2 separate regions of the Homo sapiens genome follow, and region 2 is linked to region 1. Evidence: fine-mapped expression QTL. A gene starts in region 1. The other region holds a variant in brackets. All regions are shown on one strand. Distances are between the middles of the regions.

The links. PIP is the estimated chance that this variant, and not a neighbour inherited with it, causes the effect.
Region 2: its variant is the best candidate, but not a certain one, in a credible set for the expression of EIF2B4 in thyroid (GTEx, PIP 0.52).

What each region holds. Positions count from the first base shown.
Region 1 is chr2:27,361,645-27,374,355 of GRCh38, reverse strand. EIF2B4 (eukaryotic translation initiation factor 2B subunit delta) reads left to right here and starts at 4,018. Exons shown (of 13, transcript NM_001034116.2): 1 at 4,018-4,072; 2 at 4,437-4,480; 3 at 4,807-4,942; 4 at 5,144-5,350; 5 at 5,623-5,702; 6 at 5,893-5,984; 7 at 6,217-6,331; 8 at 6,534-6,610; 9 at 6,797-6,899; 10 at 7,155-7,282; 11 at 7,420-7,597; 12 at 9,458-9,638; 13 at 9,757-10,004. The coding sequence starts at 4,042. The coding sequence ends at 9,956. SNX17 (sorting nexin 17) reads right to left here and starts at 3,740. Exons shown (of 15, transcript NM_014748.4): 1 at 3,550-3,740; 2 at 3,013-3,087; 3 at 1,616-1,733; 4 at 1,045-1,109; 5 at 385-495; 6 at 181-271; 7 at 1-10. The coding sequence starts at 3,612. It overlaps GTF3C2-AS2 (GTF3C2 antisense RNA 2), which reads right to left. Exons shown (of 4, transcript NR_183827.1): 4 at 6,476-6,932. RefSeq lists enhancers at 3,358-3,447, 3,668-3,727, 2,849-3,810, 3,748-3,837, 4,058-4,337 and 1 more.
Region 2 is chr2:27,336,945-27,344,944 of GRCh38, reverse strand. GTF3C2 (general transcription factor IIIC subunit 2) reads left to right here. Exons shown (of 19, transcript NM_001035521.3): 2 at 1,367-1,637; 3 at 1,798-2,119; 4 at 2,712-2,997; 5 at 6,925-7,019; 6 at 7,387-7,464; 7 at 7,603-7,701. The coding sequence starts at 1,391. It overlaps GTF3C2-AS1 (GTF3C2 antisense RNA 1), which reads right to left. Exons shown (of 4, transcript NR_038427.1): 3 at 7,619-7,734; 4 at 7,142-7,508. Among named protein-coding and RNA genes, the nearest start is that of GTF3C2-AS1, 5.4 kb to the right of the region's middle. The variant G/AG (reference allele first, on the strand shown) is at 4,053.

The sequences.
Region 1 (12,711 bases):
TTCCGTACAACTACAGGTTAAAAAAAAAAAAATGAAAATATAGTGAGATTTAAAGGAAGGGAAATCAAGAAAGAAGTGCCCTGAGGCAATGTTCATTCTGGGGGTGGGGGTGGGGAGTTAGGGGGGCTGCAAACTCTACTGAAGTACCCTTGTACTGCAGTCAAGTCCAGAGAAACTCACAAGAAAAGGCTCCATCCTCTTTTTCTCGAACTAAGAATAGACTAAAGTATCCAATCAAGTCATCTGGAAGATCCAGCTTTGCAGCTACAGCCTGGGGATAGGGATAGAAGTACAGCTCATCATACTGGCTGGTTCCAATCATTCTCCAAGCCCAGGACCCCAGGATGTAGGGGAAGAAGGGGCAGTGCTGAACAAGCGCCTCACCTCCAGGACATCCTCAGTCTGATCTGAAGTTAGCACGTTGACCAGAACTTTCTGCCCGTTGCTGAGCAGCACTTCCAAGGACACTTCCTCTGTGGGGACCTGCTGTGTCTCCTGTTGTGAGCACACATGGGGATGGGAAGCACTGCCTTGTCCCTTGCCTTGACCTATGCCCAACTCTATTTCTAGGTCCCTTGTGTGTCTTTATTCTCAGCTGCTTAAATATAGGCTGTGATTTCTTTGATTTCATAAGAATAGAAGTTCCATTCCATTAAAAAAGATGACTCCTCTGTTATTAAGATGACATGGCCTGGCTGGGTGTGGTGGCTCACACCCGTAATCCCAGCACTTTGGGAGGCCAAGGCGGGTGGATCACCTGAGGTCAGGAGTTCGAGACCAGCCAGGCCAACACGGCAAAACCCCGTCTCCACTAAAAATACAAAAATGAGCCGGACATGGTGGCAGGCGCCTGTAATTCTAGCTACTTGGGAGGCTGAGGCAGGAGAATCGCTTGAATCCGGGAGGCGGAGATTGCAGTGAGCTGAGATCGCACCACTGCACTCCAGCCTGTGCAAAAGAGCAAGACTCTGTCTCAAAAAAATAAAAGACATGACCTTCCAGCAAGGTCCTTTCCTTAAATCTTGGTCCCACCCAAAGCCCTACCTGTTGTGCCCGACGCAGGAAACTGTTGAAAGTCTCGCTGCTCCCAAGCAATGGGTCTTGCCGAACTACGAGGACAAGAGAACATTATTACAGGAACTTAGCACTCACTCTTGGCTCCCCAGTCCTCCTCTCAGTAGGTTCCCCCGACCCCATTTCCTGGGCTGATGGTGGCCTGCCACATCCCCCAGCTGGCCTCACCTCACTCACTGTTTGCATAAATTCTTCACCTGCCCCACCCTTGGCTGCCATCTAGGTGAGTCCAGTCTATAGAACTAGGGAAATAACAATGATGTTAATCTAAAGCACATCAGATACAAATTAAGTTCTCTCCACTGATATTAAGACTAGTGTTATACTAGTATTTCTCATAGATGTTAGTGCCCAAATTGTTTTGCTAGTACACAGAGTTACACATCCTCGTACACTATTTACTTTGCTAACTGCATAACAGATCAAACAAGAGCCTTCCTAGATCTAGAAATTAAATCAGGCCCTTCCACAGAACCAGCTGTTTTTAAGTCTCTCCCCATAGTCCTCAATATAGTCAACCTAGTTTCCTGCAACCACTCACCAGCTTGCATGTACTTCTCTAACTGCTCTCTCCTCTGTTCTACCTCAGCAGGAGTCAGAGAGAAAAGCTTCTTTGGGGGGAATGCAGGAAGCACATTGGCCCCATACTCCTTCCGAAGCTATTTAGAGAAAGAGATACAACCCTTCACATAAACACAGAAAATGAGATGAGGCAATCTACATATGCTCATAATGTTCTCTTGGGTGCCCCTCCCTTCCCTCAGTCCCTGTTCCCCTGTCTACCCTGGTCATCTGAGAAACAATTCCTTTGACAGCGGTAGCACCTCAAGGGAGCTGTCCTAGATATAAGTTGTGCTCTATTTTACTGTGTACAAGTCAGCCCCTCCACAGTACGGGGAGGATTTGTACTGGGCCAGGACCTATAGGGAGCCCCTTGACCACCTAGCAAGACTGTTCACTGAACCCTTAAAGGAAGGAAAGGGCTTTATAAAGTGCACAGTTAATAGCTAAGTCTGTTCACAAAATATCTTAGGACTTAAAGGGACTTTGCAGATCAAAGAATCCATCTTTCAGTTGTAGAAACTGAGGCCCAAAGAAATCAGTTTCTACAGGCCTCATGCCTGTAATCTCAGCATTTTGGGAGGCAAGGTGGGTGGATCACCTGAGGTCAGGAGTTTGAGACCAGCCTGGCCAACATAGTGAAACCCCTCTCTACTAAAAATACAAAAATTAGCTGGGTGTGGAGGCAGCCGCCTGTAATCCCAGCTACTCAGGAGGCTGAGGAAGGAGAATCGCTTGAACCCAGGAGGCAGAGGTTGCAGTGAGCCGAGATCGTGCCACTGCACTCCAGCCTGGGCAACAAGAGAGAAACTCCGTCCCAAAAAAAGATATCAGGTAACTTGTTCAGGGTTGCACAACTAATTATCAGTGGAGCTCTACTGAGTTAAATAGAGTTTAAGATCTGGTAAGGAAGGAGGAGAAACATTGCATCACAGATACATAACGATAATTGGCACAGCTAAACACACTGAAATGAGCCGAAGAACACAAAAGGAAATCGGTGAATCGTTTGTATAAGCAGGGAAAAGAATTTCAAGTTGCCGCTCAGATGACAGAAGGAATGTGCTTTGACAGCCTGGGTGGAGGTAGTGGGGGGAGGGGTTGGTTTGTCCATGCAGGGGTAAAGGCTACTAGAGCAGTAAGACTGGACAGAAAACCAGAATATAAGAACAGGAAGGAGCAGTTGTTGCGCGGACATTAAGCTTCTTAGGGAGTTCCCGGAAATGTCAGACAAGATAAACCAGGGCCCTACCCTGTGGCAGTGATTAAAGGGGAACTACAGCCTACGGGAACAAGAAGAGCGGGTAAAGGGAGACACTGATGTCCACGTGTAGGGAAGGGCTTGAAGCTGTCTCAAGGCAGGGGTGCTAGTCCCACCTGCTCGTGCAGCCCCAGGAGCTGGCTGTAGCGCACCCGACAGTGCAGGACTCCATTCACGTGAATGTTATAGGCCTGAGGACACAAAAGTAGTCAAGCATTTTAGGGTTGCGGTCTGCGCAACCCCCCTGAGAACCCTGGCCGGAAGTTGCCTGGCAACTCGCCGGAGTAACGCGCTAATCTCCCGAGGGATAGTTCGCTTGTTTTCGCCAGGGCCAAGTCCCAAAGCTGAAGAGCCAGTCCGGGGGAAATTCGGACGCTTGTGTTGCAGTCTCACTGCCCAAGAGGCCAGTGACGCCCACCAGGGCAGCTGCGGCCTAGCTCGGGGAAGCGACCCGGCCTAAGGGCCTACAGGAGCTCGGGCGACCACTGCACGAATCACACACATGAGATAAGCTCCCAGAGAGGCCGTCGGGAGTCGGCGGCCCAGGACCAGGCCCGAAGGGTGGCGGTCAGGCCTCAGAGGCCGCTCCGAGATGGCTCGGGCCCGTTATCCCCGCCCCTGCCCGGCCCGGCTCGGCTCCGGCCGCTCCTCACCACGTAGGCGGAGCCGCCGCTGTCCCCGCTGCGGGACTCGGTTTCGGGAATGGAAAAGTGCATGTTCCCTACGGCACGGCACGGCCGGGCTCCGGACTGTGAGGGCCGCAGCGGCTCTGCACGCTCCCCCTCCGCTGCTCAGCGAGTCCCCGCAGCCTCACTCGCCATTTTGGGAGCCCTGCGATCCGATGTGGGAAGGCGGTGGGACGTCGGTTCTGGGACGCAATCGCCTGGGCATGCTGGGAACTGTAGTCTAAAGGGCAAGAGCCACCTGTCCGGATAGGGAGCCCAAAGTGGAGTTGGCCCTCATTGCAACCCGTAGTGCGGGGCGGGGCCTCGGGGCCCGTCGGAAATTGTAGTCCGATTGGGGCTGCGCGCTTCGCTTCTGCGGCTCAGCCTCCAGCCCAGGTGGCGCTGTGGACCCTGCAGCCGCGGAGCGAGGCAGCGGGGCGGCTCCGTGACCACGGCGGGCGGAGCCTAGGACTGAGGGCGATGGCTGCTGTGGCCGTGGCTGTTCGCGAGGGTGAGTGAAGAGCCGGGCCTGCCTACTGGTACGCGGAGCCGACGAGCTCCGGACAGCTAGTGCCGGGCCTTGAGCGCCTTTGGGCCCCGCCGCTCCGTTCCAGCGCCACGCTGGGCTCCGGTCTACACAGTCTCGAGCGCAGTCCCGCGCCGCGCACCGGCTGGTTGCTGTGAGGAGGGTCGGTGACCCCTCCATTCCTTTGATCCGCCGCGCAGTGCGTCCCCACGCGGATCCCTGGCTCGCCTCGCGCCTGCCGGCGGATCCGTGGTCATGCCAACCCAGCAGCCGGCTGCGCCGAGTACTCGTGCCCCCAAACCCTCCCGGAGTCTCTCTGGCTCACTTTGTGCCCTGTTTTCTGATGCAGACTCGGGATCCGGGATGAAGGCGGAGCTTCCCCCTGGGCCTGGGGTAAGTGAGGCTTCCCTCCCAAGCCGCCTGCCAAGCGCTACGCAGGAGGCTGTGCCAGCTTTATTCCGCCCCAGCTCCCATCCCGTGTCGGTTTATTTCTCAGTAAAGCCAGGAGATTTTACAGAGGTCTTGCAACCCTAGGGATATATGATTCTGTCCCTGGAGGAGAAACGTCAGCCTCTGTGGATGTAAGCTTGCAACAGGTAGCTTGTGGAAGTTAGGAAGAACTAGGGATTTAACCATGTGGAAATCTTGTAAGCATCCAATAGTATTTGTTCCCCTTTGGAATTGTTGGGGAAGAGCAGTATCCTATGTCTGTGTCTCAGGCAGTGGGGAGGGAAATGACCAAAGAAGAAAAGCTGCAGCTTCGGAAGGAAAAGAAACAGCAGAAGAAGAAACGGAAGGAAGAAAAGGGGGCAGAACCAGAGACTGGCTCTGCTGTATCTGCAGCCCAATGTCAAGGTGAGTGAGGGGTCTCTTTTAAAGGGCTGGGGTGTGGAGCTGGTAGAGGGATGTGGTGGGAGAGATAAGGGAGAGACAGGACAAAGTTGATTTGAGCAAGTGTGTAAAGCAAAGAGGTTTACAAGGAGAGAAGCTAGTTTTAGCTGGGGCACGGATATCACCTGCCTGCAGCTTGGGCATTTTTTTTTTTAATGCTTTTAGTAGGCCCAACCAGAGAACTGCCAGAATCGGGCATTCAGTTGGGCACTCCTCGGGAGAAAGTTCCAGCTGGTCGGAGTAAGGCCGAACTTCGGGCTGAGCGTCGAGCCAAGCAGGAGGCCGAGCGGGCCCTGAAACAGGCAAGAAAAGGGGAACAAGGAGGACCACCTCCTAAGGCCAGCCCCAGCACAGCTGGAGAAACCCCCTCAGGTATCTTCCCTTCATTTTAAGACCTCCCTTACTCCTAATTATAACGCCAGCTCAGGCTGCCCAATAGTAAAACAGCTCTCCCCTCTCATTCTTGGGACCCAGAGTTCTGAATTGTTCCTGCAACCCCATTATCCTATCCCTATTTCCTTTTCTACCCTATTCTCCCGTTTTCTCCACCTCATCCTGTTTTTCTTGATGCCCCTTATACCCTAAGAGCAAATTACACATTTCAAGACCTACAGTGTCCTGAAAACATGATGATTATCTTTCAGGAGTGAAGCGTCTCCCTGAGTACCCTCAGGTTGATGACCTACTTCTGAGAAGGCTTGTTAAAAAACCAGAGCGTCAACAGGTAGGAAGTGGGTTTGGTGCCTGGCTAGAAAGAGCCTAGGGAAATGGACTGGAGGGAGGAAAGGTGCTGGGTGCAAAGTGAGAAGGATAGGTGCTTGGGTCAGAGTAGTCTTACTGTTCACTTCCTTTCCAGCTTTATCCCATCCTTTTTAAACTCTGGGCCATTGGTCCTGTTCCCTTGTTTTGTCAAGGTTCCTACACGAAAGGATTATGGATCCAAAGTCAGTCTCTTCTCTCACCTACCCCAGTACAGCAGACAAAACTCTCTGACCCAGTTTATGAGGTAGGATCCTATGAAATTGTCATAACTTTTGAGTCTGAGGAGTTTTAGTAAGTCAGTATTGAAAGTTTCTAGTAATCTGAGATGGACTCTGTAGGAAAAAGTATGAACCCAAGGCAGAACTGTAGAGGAGTGGGGAAATCTGCTAGTGAAGGGAGTTCCTTTTCATCAGGGGCAGGTGGGCAGTAGATGCTCAAGCTCCCTTTCAAAGTATGTGACACCGCCATCCCATCAGCATCCCATCCTCTGTGATCCACCCAGCCATGGTGCGACTCGGCCTGCAGTACTCCCAGGGCCTGGTCAGTGGCTCCAATGCCCGGTGTATTGCCCTGCTTCGTGCCTTGCAGCAGGTATGTCCCATCCTGTTCTCTCTTATGATCCAACCCCACCTCCCCCAATACTACCCCAGCTTCTGTCACCCAAGGTCATCTCTGGGGGACAGAGGGAATACTCCTACCCTCAGAACATTTTCCTCAGTGAAGCTTACCCCCAGCCCCCGTTCAGAGATCTTTATTAAGGGGTATTTTGCAGATCACCTTGTGTACCCTATAGGTGATTCAGGATTACACAACACCGCCTAATGAAGAACTCTCCAGGGATCTAGTGAATAAACTAAAACCCTACATGAGGTAGGGACAACACTATAAGTCCACTCCCAGCTCGCCCAATCTTTGTCTTGTACTCTTTTTCCTGCTTTTCTATCTCTCTTTTCATTTTGTGTTCTATTTTCTTTTTAAAGACTTTTTTTTTAAATGTGAAGGCTTTGTAAGTTGTGAAGAGTTGCGCAGATATAAGGTATTGCTGTTGTATTATAGCTTCCTGACTCAGTGCCGTCCCCTGTCAGCGAGCATGCACAACGCCATCAAGTTCCTTAACAAGGAAATCACCAGTGTGGGCAGTTCCAAGCGGGAAGAGGAGGTGATGAGTATGAGAAATAAGGAAGGCATGCACCTGTGGGTAAAATTAAGAAACATGTTAAAAACTCCCGGGAAGGCCAACGTAAGCCTTTTTTTGCCCTAGTCAAGGGTTAAGGAATGGTTTGGCCATTCTGACTTGTGCCATCTCTGAGCCCTCTATAGGCTTGTCATCATACACATATTCAAGCACCTGGCATGATCATCAGAGGGATAAAAGTGTCCATTTCTTGTTCACTAAGGATTTTACTCCATTTAGGCCAAGTCAGAACTTCGAGCAGCCATTGATCGGTATGTGCAAGAGAAGATTGTGCTAGCAGCTCAGGCAATTTCACGCTTTGCTTACCAGAAGATCAGTAATGGAGATGTGATCCTGGTATATGGATGGTATGGTCCAGACCTTGTGACTGAGCAGATTGGGAGTTGGAATGATCTGAAGAAGGGACTACCCACTTGCCTTTGGGAATAAGTTAGTCATCAGTTACTGACATTTATAACTGAATCCTCCTCTTCATTCACTCTAGCTCATCTCTGGTATCACGAATTCTTCAGGAGGCTTGGACAGAGGGCCGGCGGTTTCGGGTGGTAGTGGTGGACAGCCGGCCATGGCTGGAAGGAAGGCACACACTACGTTCTCTAGTCCATGCTGGTGTCCCAGCCTCCTACCTGCTGATTCCTGCAGCCTCCTATGTGCTCCCAGAGGTAAGTACAGAGGAAAAGGACTCCAAAGTTGGCGGTGAAAAGGTGTAGTAGTATAGACATAATCTCACCTTCCCAAAGTTACAGTTTTGTTTTTGTTTTGAGATAAGGATGGAGTGCAGCGACGTGATCACAGCTCACTGCAGTCTTGACCTCCTGGGCTCAGGTGATCTTCCCACCTCCGCCTCTGAGTAGCTGGGACTACTGGTGTGTGCCACCATGCCCAGCTAGTTTTTTATTTTTCTTGTAGAGATGGGATATCGCTACATTGCCCAGGCTGGAACTCCTGGGCTCAAGCAGTTCCCCCTGTCTCGGCCTCCCAAAGTACTGGGATCATAGGCATGAGCCACTGTGCCCAGCCACAATTATTTAAAAATATTAGAATTATATAGCCCTGGCTTGGTGCCATGGCTCAATGCCTGCAATCTCAGCACTAAGGCAGGAGGATCACTTGAGCCCAGGAGTTCAAGACCAGCCTGCTCAACATAATGAGACCCTGTACACACACACACACACACACACACACACACACACACACACACACACCCCACCCCACCCCCACCCCGGGCATGGTGGCATGCGCATGTAGTTCCAGCTACTTAGGCTGAGGTGAGAGGACTGCTTGAGTGCGTGCGCGCGCGCACGCACACACACACACACACACACAGCTACTTAGGAGGCTGAGGTGAGAGGACTGCTTGAACACACACACACACACACACACCCGGGCATGGTGGCATGCGCATGTAGTTCCAGCTACTTAGGAGGCTGAGGTGAGAGGACTGCTTGAGCCCAGGAGGTTGAGGCTACAGTGAGCTGTCATTGCACCACTGCACTCCAGCCTGGGTGACAGAATGAAACCCTGTGTCAAAAAAAATAATTATATAGCTCTGTTTCTATTTAATTGGAAAAACACTGACAGTATATTACAGCAGTCTAGCTATTGCAAAAACATTACATTAAACTAGCAACCAGGAAGAGGGAACAAGACAAAAGTAACTTCAAAGTTTACTTTTCCTGTGGGAGATTTGGTGGGTCAGTGGTCAGGTGTTTTCACAGAAGAAAAGCCATCATTAAGATTTATTAGGCCGGGCACAGTGGCTCAAGCCTGTAATTCCAGCACTTTGGGAGGCCGAGGAGGGCAGTTCACGAGGTCAGGAGTTCACAATCATCCTGGCTAACACAGTGAAACCCCGTCTCTACTAAAAATACAAAAAATTAGCCGGGCGTGGTGGTGGGCGCCTGTAGTCCCAGCTAATCTGGAGGCTGAGTCAGGAGAATGGCGTGAACCCAGGAGGCAGAGCTTGCAGTGAGCCGAGATCATGCCACTGCACTCCAGCCTGGGCGACAGAGCGAGACTCCATCTCAAAAAAAAAAAAAAAAAGGATTTATTAATTGCCGGACTCAGTGGCTCACGCCTGTTATCCTGGCACTTTGGGTGGCTGAGGCGGGCAGATCACCTGAGGTTGGGAGTTCGAGACCAGCCTGACCAACGTGGAGAAACCCCGTCTCTACTAAAAATATAAAAATACAACAAATCAGCTGGGAGTGGTGGTGCATGCCTGTAATCCCAGCTACTCGGGAGGCTGAGGCAGGAGAATCACTTGAACCCAGGAGGCAGAGGTTGTGGTGAGCCGAGATCGCGCCATTGCACTCCAGCCTGGGCAACAAGAGCAGAACTTCATCTCAAAGAAAAAAAAAAAAAAGATTTATTACTTGTTGTCTGTTTTTGTTTCTTTCCCTTCTTTTCACAGGTGTTGAGATTTATTACTTGTCTTAATGTTGCTGTCCTGTAAGTAGGGGACCTTATTTTGCATTGATACAACAATGACATTTTTTTCTTCCTCTTCTCCTGTGAAACAGGTTTCCAAGGTGCTATTGGGAGCTCATGCACTCTTGGCCAACGGGTCTGTGATGTCACGGGTAGGGACAGCACAGTTAGCCCTGGTGGCTCGAGCCCATAATGTACCAGTGCTGGTTTGCTGTGAAACATACAAGTTCTGTGAGCGTGTGCAGACTGATGCCTTTGTCTCTAATGAGCTAGGTAAGGAGGCAAAAGAGAAGCCTCCAGCTACCTGTGAAGACTTGAGAGGGAGGGAGAGGGGCGGATAAACTAGAACTTCTTTTCTGAAAGAACATAATGGGTACGCCTTCCATTGCAGATGACCCTGATGATCTGCAATGTAAGCGGGGAGAACATGTTGCGCTGGCTAACTGGCAGAACCACGCATCCCTACGGTTGTTGAATCTAGTCTATGATGTGACTCCCCCAGAGCTTGTGGATCTGGTGATCACGGAGCTGGGGATGATCCCTTGCAGTTCTGTACCTGTTGTTCTACGAGTCAAGAGCAGTGACCAGTGACGGGGGAAACACAGGGTTAATAAATGCCATACTCCCTACCCTCAGCAACTCTGCTGCCTTTGTTTCTCTTTTAGCATCTCCACCACTTAAGTTAGGAGTCCAGACTTCACAACCCCTTTTATCACCTGCTACTCAGACCTTTGTGAAGACCTGCTCAAGTAACTAGCTCCATGCCAGTACATTGGGACTAACCTGAAGACCCGTATAAAGAACCAAAACTACCCAAATCAATCATTCACTGAGCATCTACATGCCAGACACTAAACTGGGTGTGAGGAGGAATATGAAAACAAATAGTCCTGGGCTGAGTGCAGTGACTCATTCCTGTAATCTCAGCATTTTGGGAGGCTAAGGCAGGAGGATTGTTTGAGCCCAGAGGTTTGAGACCAGCCTGGGCAACATGGCAATCCGGTCTCTACAAAAAATAAAAATTAGCTGGGCATGGTTGTGCTCATCTGTTGTTCCAGCTACTCAGGAGGCTGAAGCCAGAGGATTGCTTGAGTCCAGGAGGTAGAGGCTGCAGTAAGCCATGATTGTGCCGCTGCACTCCAGCCTGGGTGACAGAGTGAGACCCTGTCTCAAAAAGAGAGTCCTAACCTTATAAATTAGCATTTGTTGAATATTTAACTGTGTGTCAGAAACTGTTCTGAACCCTTTCTTACCCATTTAGGAAGATTAATACAACTCTATGAAGGCTGGGCGCAGTGGCTCATTTGGGAGGCCGAGGCAGGCAGATCACCTCAGGTCAAGAGTTCAAGACCAGCCTGGCCAACATGATGAAACCCTGTCTCTACACTAAATACAAAAATTAGCTGGGCGTGGTGGCGCATGCCTGTAATCCCAGCTACTCCAGAGGCTGAGGCAGAAGAATCGCTTGAACCCAGGAGATGGAGATTGCAGTGAGCTGAGATGGCACCATTGCACTCCAGCCTGGGCAACAAAGCGAGGCTCCATCTCTAAAAATAAAAATAATAATACAACTCTATGAAGTAAATGCGATTTTACAGATGAGATAATGGAAGCATAGAAAGGTTAAGTTGCTTGCCCAAGGCAACACAGCTCAGACACAGAAAGGTTAAGTTACTTACCCAAGGCAGACAGAGAGATGAAGTTACTTGCCCTAGGTAACACAGCTAGTCAGTAGCTAAACCAGGATGTGACCTCAGGCAGTCTGGATCTAGAAACTGTGCCCTTAACTTTTGTGCTATATTCCCTTAAGGAACGCTTACCATGGCATAAGAAGATAGTATCTACAGTATGAGGTAACCCAGTAGTAGTATGAACAAAAGATTGGTGAAAACTTACAAGTCACATCTAACCTAGTCCTTGAAAGATAAGTAATTGCCCAGTTAGGGAAGAAAAAAAAAGAAGAAACAGCTTGAACACAAAGAATAGGCCTTAAAGTGAGTGGCCAATGTAAAAGTGTCACATAGTATAGTGAGGCTAGAACTGAGTCTTATTGTTGAGTGATCAAACTGCAAAGGTAAGTTGGGGCCAGACTGTGAGTCCAACCACTGGTTAGCTTAAAATGAAGAGTTATCTATTGGGTATATATGTGTGTTATTGAATTTTTTTTTTTTTGAGAAAGAGTCACTCGTCTCCCAGGCTGGAGTGCAATGGCACTATCTCGGCTCACTGCAACCTCTGCCTTCTGGGTTCAAGCAATTCTCCTGCCTCAGCCTCCCAAGTAGCTGGGATCACAGGTGCCTGCCACCACACTTAGCTAATTTTTGTATTTTTAGTAGAGACGGGGTTTCACCATGTGGGTCAGGCTGGTCTTGAACTCTTGACCTCAAGCAATCCACCTGCCTTGGCCTCCCAAAGTGCTGGGATTACAGGCGTGAGCCACTGCACCCAACCATTTTATCAAATTTTTTTTTTATACTTTAAGTTCTACAGTACATGTGCGCAATGTGCAGGTTTGTTACATAGGTATACATATGCCATGTTGGTTTTATCAAACATTTTTAAGCAGCGTAAAAGTAGAACTATACAAAGAATCTCCATGACCAGATGCAACAGTTATCAAATTTGCCACATTTACTTTCTCTTTTTGTTGTTTTTCTTTTTTCTTTTTTTTTTTTTTTTTTTTGAGACAGAGTTTCGCTCTTGTTGCCCAGGCTGGAGTGCAATGGTGCAATCTTGGCTCACTGCAACCTCCGCCTCCTGGATTCAAGCGATTCCCCTGCCTCAGCCTCTCGAGTAGCTGGGATTATGGGCATGTGCCACCATACCCAGCTAATTTTGTATTTTTAGTAGAGATGGGGGTTTCTCCATGTTGGTCAGGCTGGTCTTGAACTCCCGACCTCAGGTGATCCGCCCGCCTCAGCGTCCCAAGGTGTTGGGATTACAGGCGTGAGCCACAGCACTCAGCCTTCTTGTTTTTCCTTGATGAAGTTACTTTAAATCAAATCCAAGCATTATATCATTTCACTCCTTTAACTTCAATGTCTCTTAAGAAATATGGAAATTTACCATAATATCACTTATTAAATCATACTTTCTTAGTATTCAATCCATAATCAAATTTCCTTGGCTGAAAAATGACTTAGTTTGACTCAAGATCCAAACAAATCCACACATTACATTTGGTTACATTTTTTAAAAAGCAGTCTCCTCAGCCGGGCGCGGTGGCTCACGCCTAATCCCAGCACTTTGGGAGGCCGAGGCGGGCAGTTCACGAGGTCAGGAGATGGAGACCATCCTGGCTAACACAGTGGAACCCCATCTCTACTAAAAATACAAAAAATTAGCC
Region 2 (8,000 bases), 27 kb after region 1:
AACACCATCATAGCTCACTGTAACCTCGAACTCCTAGGCTCAAGCAATCCTCCTGTCTCAGCCTTCCAAGTAGCTGGGACTACAGGTGCGCACCACCATGCCCGGCTAACTTTTAAAATTTTTTGTAGAGATGAGGTCTCCCTATGTTGCCCAGACTGGTCTTGAACTCCTGGCCTCAAGCAGTCCTTCTTCCTTGGCCTCTCAAAGTGTTGGAATTACAGGCATGAGCCATCCTGCCTGGCCTTTTACTTATTCTTAAATAAACTTATTCCTTGACTAATCTTTACAGAAAGAGATGTTAACATTAAGTATGCCTCTTCACTTTGGTCTAAATTTTGTAGTATCTGGCAGCTCTTTTTTGTAGTATATTTTGAGGAAGTTGGTGTCCCTTTCCTAGATTCATGCTAGACAAATTTTTCTCTCTCTTCTTTTTTGGAGTGTGTGTATGTCTGTGTGTGTGTGTTTTATTTCATTGGGTTTCAGAGACAGAGGTTAAATAATTGTGCATTCACTGCTTCATCCTTACAAGAAAATATATGAGCTTTAAATTAGATAATGTATGTATAGCACTTAGTATAGTGCTTGGCACATAGTTAGCATTTAATAAATGGAAGCTTTATGGCCAGGCGCAGTGACTCATTATCTGTAATCCCAGCACTTTGGGAGGTTGAGGCGGGTGGATCACCTGAAGTCAGGAGTTTGAGACCAGCCTGGCCCACATGGTGAAACCTCATCTCTATTAAAAATACAAAAATTAGCTGGGCGTGGTGGTGCGCACCTTGATCCCAGCTACTCAGGAGGCTGAGGCAGGAGAATTGCTTGAACCCAGGAGGTGGAGGTTGTAGTGAGCTGAGATTGCCCCATTACACTCCAGCCTGGGCAACGAGAGTGAAACTCCGTCTTTAAAAAAAAAAAAAAATGGAAGCTTTATTTGTTTACTTGTTTATTGTCTGCTTCACCAAAATGTAAGTTCCATGAGGGCAGGGACCTTGTCTGTCTTGTTTATTGTCATATCACCAGTTTCCTTTTTTGTTTTTAATTTTTTTATTTTATTTTATTTTGCTAGAGAAGGGGTCTTGCTGTGTTGCCCAGGCTAGCCTCAAACTCCTAAGCTCAAGCTGCCTTCCTGCCTCAGCCTCCCTAAGTGCTGGGATTACAGGTGTGAGCCACCGCACCTGGCTCATATTACCAGTTTCCAGAACAGTCCTGACATATAGAAGGTGCTTAGTAAATATTGTTGAATAAGTGAATAATCAGGGAACTTGGTTATGAGTGTGAGAATGAGGGAGAAAAGATGGGGAAATAAAAATCTGAGCTAGTACAAATAGTTTTTGTCCTCTACTCATTTGTGTGTCTCTGTATGCAGGGGCAGCCATTTTGGGGGGTGCTGATGGATACCTGCGGGGTCGGCTATGTTGCCCTGGGGGAGGCCGGCCCCGTGGGGAACATGACTGTGGTAGACTCTCCTGGACAAGAGGTGCTAAATCAGCTTGATGTCAAGACCTCTTCAGAAATGACCAGTGCAGAGGCTTCCGTAGAGATGTCATTACCTACCCCTTTGCCTGGATTTGAGGATTCTCCTGATCAGAGGAGGCTCCCTCCAGAGCAGGAAAGCCTCTCCAGACTGGAACAGCCAGGTATGTACCTTGTCCTCTTATCTTTTTATTCCCCATGCCAAGCTTAAGATGAAAGAGCAGATTGAGCTCATAGGATCTTACAAACCTGGGTACAGTGTAATCTTTTCCATAGAGGTTTGAGTTCTGGTCCCATCTCACAGACCCATATTCTTCTCCACAGATCTTTCTTCAGAGATGTCAAAGGTCTCAAAGCCTAGGGCCTCAAAGCCTGGCCGGAAGAGAGGTGGTAGGACACGAAAAGGCCCCAAAAGGCCCCAACAGCCTAATCCTCCATCAGCCCCACTGGTTCCTGGTCTCTTAGATCAATCCAACCCTCTGTCCACCCCCATGCCTAAGAAACGAGGTCGAAAGTCCAAGGCAGAGCTGCTGCTGCTGAAGTTGTCAAAAGACCTAGATCGGCCAGAATCTCAATCTCCAAAGAGGCCCCCTGAGGACTTTGAGACCCCTTCTGGGGAACGACCCCGCCGAAGGGCTGCCCAAGTGTAAGGATTGTGGGGCATAGCTTGGTGGAGGGGGGTTGGGTGAAGGGATCAGGGTGGGGCAGATGTTGGAGAGAGAAGACTGATGAGGTATTAGGTAAGCAGGGGTGGTGTCTGGATTCTAGGGACTTGAGCAGTCCTTTAGGCTCTTACCGCAGCACTATTAATGGTATGTATTGCTAACTTGGTTTATCTAAGAATTATTGTCTGTACTTTATGTCCTATGCCATTTTTCACAAACTTTACCCAGCTCTTTATTGTTTTACTGTCCAGTATATGTCAGTATATATATTCTGTTCCATTCTTTCTCTTGCCCTCTGTGTTCTTTGACTGTGGTAGGATGAAAAATGTATTGAACTTGGAGTGAGAAGACCTGGGTTCAGATTCCACATTTGTTATCTCAGTCATCTCGGCCAAGTCACATAACTTAGATTTCTGGTTTTTCATCTTCCAAGGGGGAAGGGGAAATTAATAGAGTTAATTGGTTAATCATGGGGTTATTGGGAGGCTCCATTGAGATAAAAATCAACCATGTCTGGAAACGTGGGTTCTCAGTCATATGTGAGAATGGCTCTGACTCTGTCCGTTCCCACAGGGCACTTCTGTATCTTCAGGAACTGGCTGAAGAGCTCTCAACAGCCCTGCCTGCCCCTGTGTCCTGTCCTGAGGGCCCCAAGGTGAGCAGCCCCACCAAACCGAAGAAGATCCGGCAGCCAGCAGCCTGTCCAGGTGGAGAAGAGGTGGATGGTGCTCCACGGGATGAAGACTTTTTTCTCCAGGTTGAGGCTGAAGATGTGGAAGAAAGTGAGGGCCCAAGTGAGAGCTCATCTGAACCTGAGCCTGTAGTGCCCCGAAGCACCCCACGAGGATCTACTTCAGGGGTAACCTCAATGGACAAGAAAGTGAATGGGGACATAGTAGGATTTTAGGGGACCAGCAAGGTACTGAGAAAGGAAGGACAGCTTTGACCTGGTAACTATAATAGACAAAACAGGTTAAAGAAAAAAGGGTCCATTTCCAAAACATTTGGCATATTAGGGAGAGCGCAGAAGAAGGGGTATGGTAAACAAGATTATTCATTCATATATTGAGTATCTGTTCTCTGTTAGGAAACACAACAAACGTAAATAAGACAGTGTATCCTGCCTCACAAGTTCACAGTGCAATCAGCACTACCCCAGGAGTGAACAAAATGATTTAGGCATATAAAGGAAAGGGTAATTAACTGCCTAGGCTTCACAGAGGAATGATAGTTGAATTGCTTCTTGAAGGATAAGTAGAAGTTTGCCAGAGAGGATGGTTTTCCCATAAATTGATTATGGCTGGAGCATAGAGCCTGGAGTAAAGTTGTAGGCGAGATTAAACTGGAGAATATGAAAGGACATAGACCTATAGGAACCAACAAAGGCTGTTTTTGTTTATGGTTTTTTTTGGTGGTAAAATGTATATAACATAAAATTTGCCATTTTAACCATTTAAAAATACACAATTGAGGCTGGGCGTGGTGGCTTATGCCTGTAATCCCAGCACTTTGGGAGGCCAAGGCAGGTGGATCACCCGAGGTCAGGAGTTTGAGACCAGACTGACCAATATAGTGAAACCCCGTCTCTCCTAAAAATACAAAAATTAGCCAGGCATGGTGGCACGCACCTGTAGTCCCAGCTACTTGGGAGGCTGAGACAGGAGAATCACTTAAACCAGGCAGGGAGAGGTTGCAGTGAGCTGAGATCATGCCACTGCACTCCAGCCTGGGTGAGACAGTGAGACTCCATCTCAAAAACAAAACAAAACAAAACAAAACACACAATTCAGTTGTACACAAACTGTACAACAAACATTTTTAAGTAGAAAAATAACATCAGTTGGGAAAATAGGTCAAACTATAGTTGACAGAAGACAGCTTTGCCAGATGCGGTGGCTCACGCCTGTAATCCCA[G/AG]CACTTTGGGAGGCCAAGGTGGGTGGATCACAAGGTCAAGAGTTCGAGACCAGCCTGGCCAACATAGTGAAACACCGTCTCTACTAAAAATAAAAAAAAAAAAAATTAGCTGGATGTGGTGGCGCACGCCTGTAATCCCAGCTACTCAGGAGGCTGAGGCAGGAGACTCGCTTGAACCCAGTAGGCGGAGGTTGCAGTGAGCTGAGATTGCACCATTGCATTCCAGCCTGGGTGACAGTGTGAAACTGTCTCAAAAAAAAAAAAGACAGTTTCAGTTATCCAGGTAAGAGATAGGTCCTAAATCAAGCAGTGAAGGAAGAGAAGAGCAGGGAGGGGGCAGATTCAAGAGATATGTAAGAGGCCAGGTGCGGTAGCTCACACCTGTAATCTCAGCACTTTGGGAAGCCAAGGCAGGTGGATCACTTGAGGCCAGGGGTTTGAGACCAGCTTGGCCAACATAGTGAAACCCTGTGTCTACTAGAAATACAAAAATAATTAGCTGGGTGTGGTGGCATACACCTGTAGTCCCAGCTACTCGGGAGGCTGAGGCAGGAGAATCACTTGAACCCAGGAGGCAGAGGTTGCAGTGAGCTGAGATCGCGTTATTGCACTCCAGCCAGACTCTGTCTTTAAAAAAAGAAGAGATATGTAAGGTAATTTTTTATTTTTATTTTTGTAATTCTTTTGTTTCTGTGTTCTCTCACATAATGGAATATGTAAGAGAATTAACAGTATTTGGGAATTGAAGGGAGGGAGGAAGTTGAATAGCAGTTTCCAGCTTAAATGGTGGCATCATGCACTGAACCTGGGAACACGAAAAGGGTGAGGGATGTGGGAGGGGCAAAGGTGGGGAGGGGAGAAGTTGAATTCACTTTCTTTTTTCCCTTTTTTTTTTTTTTTTTTTTTGAAACAGAGTCTTGCTCTGTCACCCAGGCTGGAGTGCAGTGGAGTGATCTCATCTCACTGCAACCTCTGCCTCCTGGGTTCAAGTGATTCTCCTGCCTCGGCTTCCCAAGTAGCTGGGATTAAAGGCACGCCCCACCACGCTCAGCTAACTTTTGTATTTTTAGTAGAGATGGGGTTTCACCATGTTGGCCAGGCTGGTCTTGAATTCTTGACCTCAAGTGATCTGCCCGCCTTGGTCTCCCAAAGTGCTGGGATTACAGATGTGAGCCACCACACCTGACAGAATTCACTTTCTGACATGTTGAGTTTGAGGTGCCCATGGGCCATGGGTCATTCTGCTGGAGATGTCTGGTCACCAGTTGCATATATGAGACCAGTGCCTTACTTGCCTCACGTGCAACATCTAAGGGATAACAGAAACCCTCAGTAATTGAGATAAATGCTATTTTGATGCAACATTTAAAAAAATCAATGCAACAAATCATGGATATTTCGTTCCATGATGAACAAAATATCAAAATTTTAAATAAAGACAGGATCTTTACTGATTTTTTTTTTCTTTTTTTTTTTTTTTTTTGAGACGGAGTTTCGCTCTTATTGCCCAGGCTGGAGTGCAATGGCATGATCTCAGCTCACCACAACCTCCACCCCTCCCGGGTTCAAGCAATGCTCCCGCCTCAGCCTCCCAAGTAGCTGAGATTACGGGTGCACACCACCACACCCAGCTAATTTTTGTATTTTTAGTAGAGATGGGGTTTCACCGTGTTGGTTAGGCTGGTCTCGAACTCCTGACCTCGTGATCCGCCCGCCTCGGCCTCCCAAAGTGCTGGGATTACAGGCATGAGCCACCATGCCCGGCTTTACTGATTTTTTCAACTGATTACTGTTTTTTTCCATTTGCCTCATGCTCTAATATGGCTTGCCACAACACTGTCTAGAACTTGTAGAGAAGTTGAGACTGAGTCAGGTTTACATGACGGAAATGTAAACTTGATAATCAGGCATAAAGATGGTAGTCAAGCTGGGTTTGGTGGTATGCATTTGTACTTCAAGCTACTCAGGAGGCTGAGGCAAGAGGATTGCTTGAGCCCAGGAGTTCAAGTCTGGCATGGGCAACACAGCAAGACCCTGTCTCTAAATTTTAAAGAAGGCCAGGTGTGGTGGCTCACACCTGTAATCCCAGCACTTTGGGAGGCCGAGGGGGAGGGATCGCTTGAGCCCAGGAGTTCAAAACCAGTCTGGGCCATGGCGAAACCTTGTCTCTACAAAAAAATACAAAAAAATTAGCCAGGTGTAGTGGGGTGTGCCTGTAGTCCCAGCTACTCAGGAGGCAGAGGTGAGAGGATTGCTTGAGCCCAGGAGGCAGAAGCTGGGGCTGCAGTGAGCCAAGATTGCGCCACTGCACTCCAGCCTGGGCAACAGAGTGAGACCCTATCTCAAAAACAACAAAAAAACAAAAAGACAGTAGTCAAAGCCATGGGACATGAGATGAGATTACCAGGAGTGTGTGTGTGTGTGTGTGTGTGCGCGCGTGCGCGTGCGCGCCTGTGTAGAGGGGCGAGAAGACGACAGGAACTCTGGGGAATACCATCATCGAGGAGACCTGTCAAGAAGGGAGAACCTGTGAAGGAATATTAAGAGAGGGGAGAGGAGTAAGGGAGACTATTCCATAGGGCGGGAGTTTCAAAGAGGCATAAGGGAATCCTGTGAATCAAATACCATGGAGATGTTGAGGAAGCTGAACAGAAAATAGGTAACAGATTTTGCATTTTCGATGGAGGAGTAGAGCAGAAGGTGAAGAAGTCATTATAGTGGTTGAAACACAAATCTTTTAAGATGCTGATAGGGCAGTGATTGGAGGGGGAGGTATTGCCAAAGAAGATAAAAACTGGGAAAGAGCTGTCTCTGGGACTTTGTCCAACCTGTAGAATTTGCTCCCTTATATTTTCTTCAATTTGATCCTCAGAAACAGAAACCACACTGCCGAGGAATGGCTCCCAATGGCTTACCAAATCATATCATGGCTCCTGTTTGGAAGTGCCTCCATCTCACCAAGGACTTGTGAGACTTGGGGACAGGGGGCTGGGGTTAATAAAGGGGTGGTAGAGGAGTGCAAGGGCGGTATTGAAGTGGGGCCGTGGGAAAGAGAAGCACTCATGGGTGGAATACCGTGATGACATTCATTACTAAAAAGCACTGCTCTAGAGGCAAGAGCTCTAGAACTCTTTAATTAAAGTGAAATAAAATGAAAGGCTCTGTTTCTCAGCTGCGCTAGCCACATTTTAGGTGCTTGGTAGCTAATTGGAGCTAGCAACTGGCATATTGGGGAGCACAGATAATGGATCATTTCCATCCCCACAGAAAGTTTTATTGGACTGTGCGGCTGTAGAATCCCTCTCCTTCATTAATGCTTCTTCTGTTTCTCCAGCCGAGAGCAGAAACATTCATACTGGGAGTTTGCTGAGTGGATTCCTTTAGCCTGGAAGTGGCACTTGTTATCTGAGCTGTAAGTTGAAGCAACATCTCTGTAGCTTAGGAAGGGTGACACCACTGGAGACGAAAGGGTGACAGAGGCTCTATAATGGGAACCCTGAGATGGGTGAAACACTTCCAAATTTAGACTGTTCCCTTTGTCTTCCCCCAGTGAGGCCGCTCCCTACCTGCCCCAGGAGGAGAAGTCTCCATTGTTTTCTGTACAACGTGAAGGGCTACCTGAAGATGGCACCCTCTACCGAATAAACAGGTGAAGATTGCACATCCGCCCTTTTTTCTGATTCTAGGAGCCAGAAACAAGAAAAATGAATGTTGAAAGAGATGACAGATAAGTCCTGTCCTTCCCCTGATGCTGGTTCAGTTGGTCCCAAGAATAAGAGTGCTGACTAGAGCTGGTCAGTCCTCTCTGATTTGTAGTGTTCATTACTGGCAGGCTGAGGGAAGCTAGAGAGATTTAGGGGCCAAAGCAGTTCACAAGGTTACATCTACTCAGATAGACCTGGACAGACTAGCCTTAGGGAGACTACTATAGTATGCCAGAATGAACAG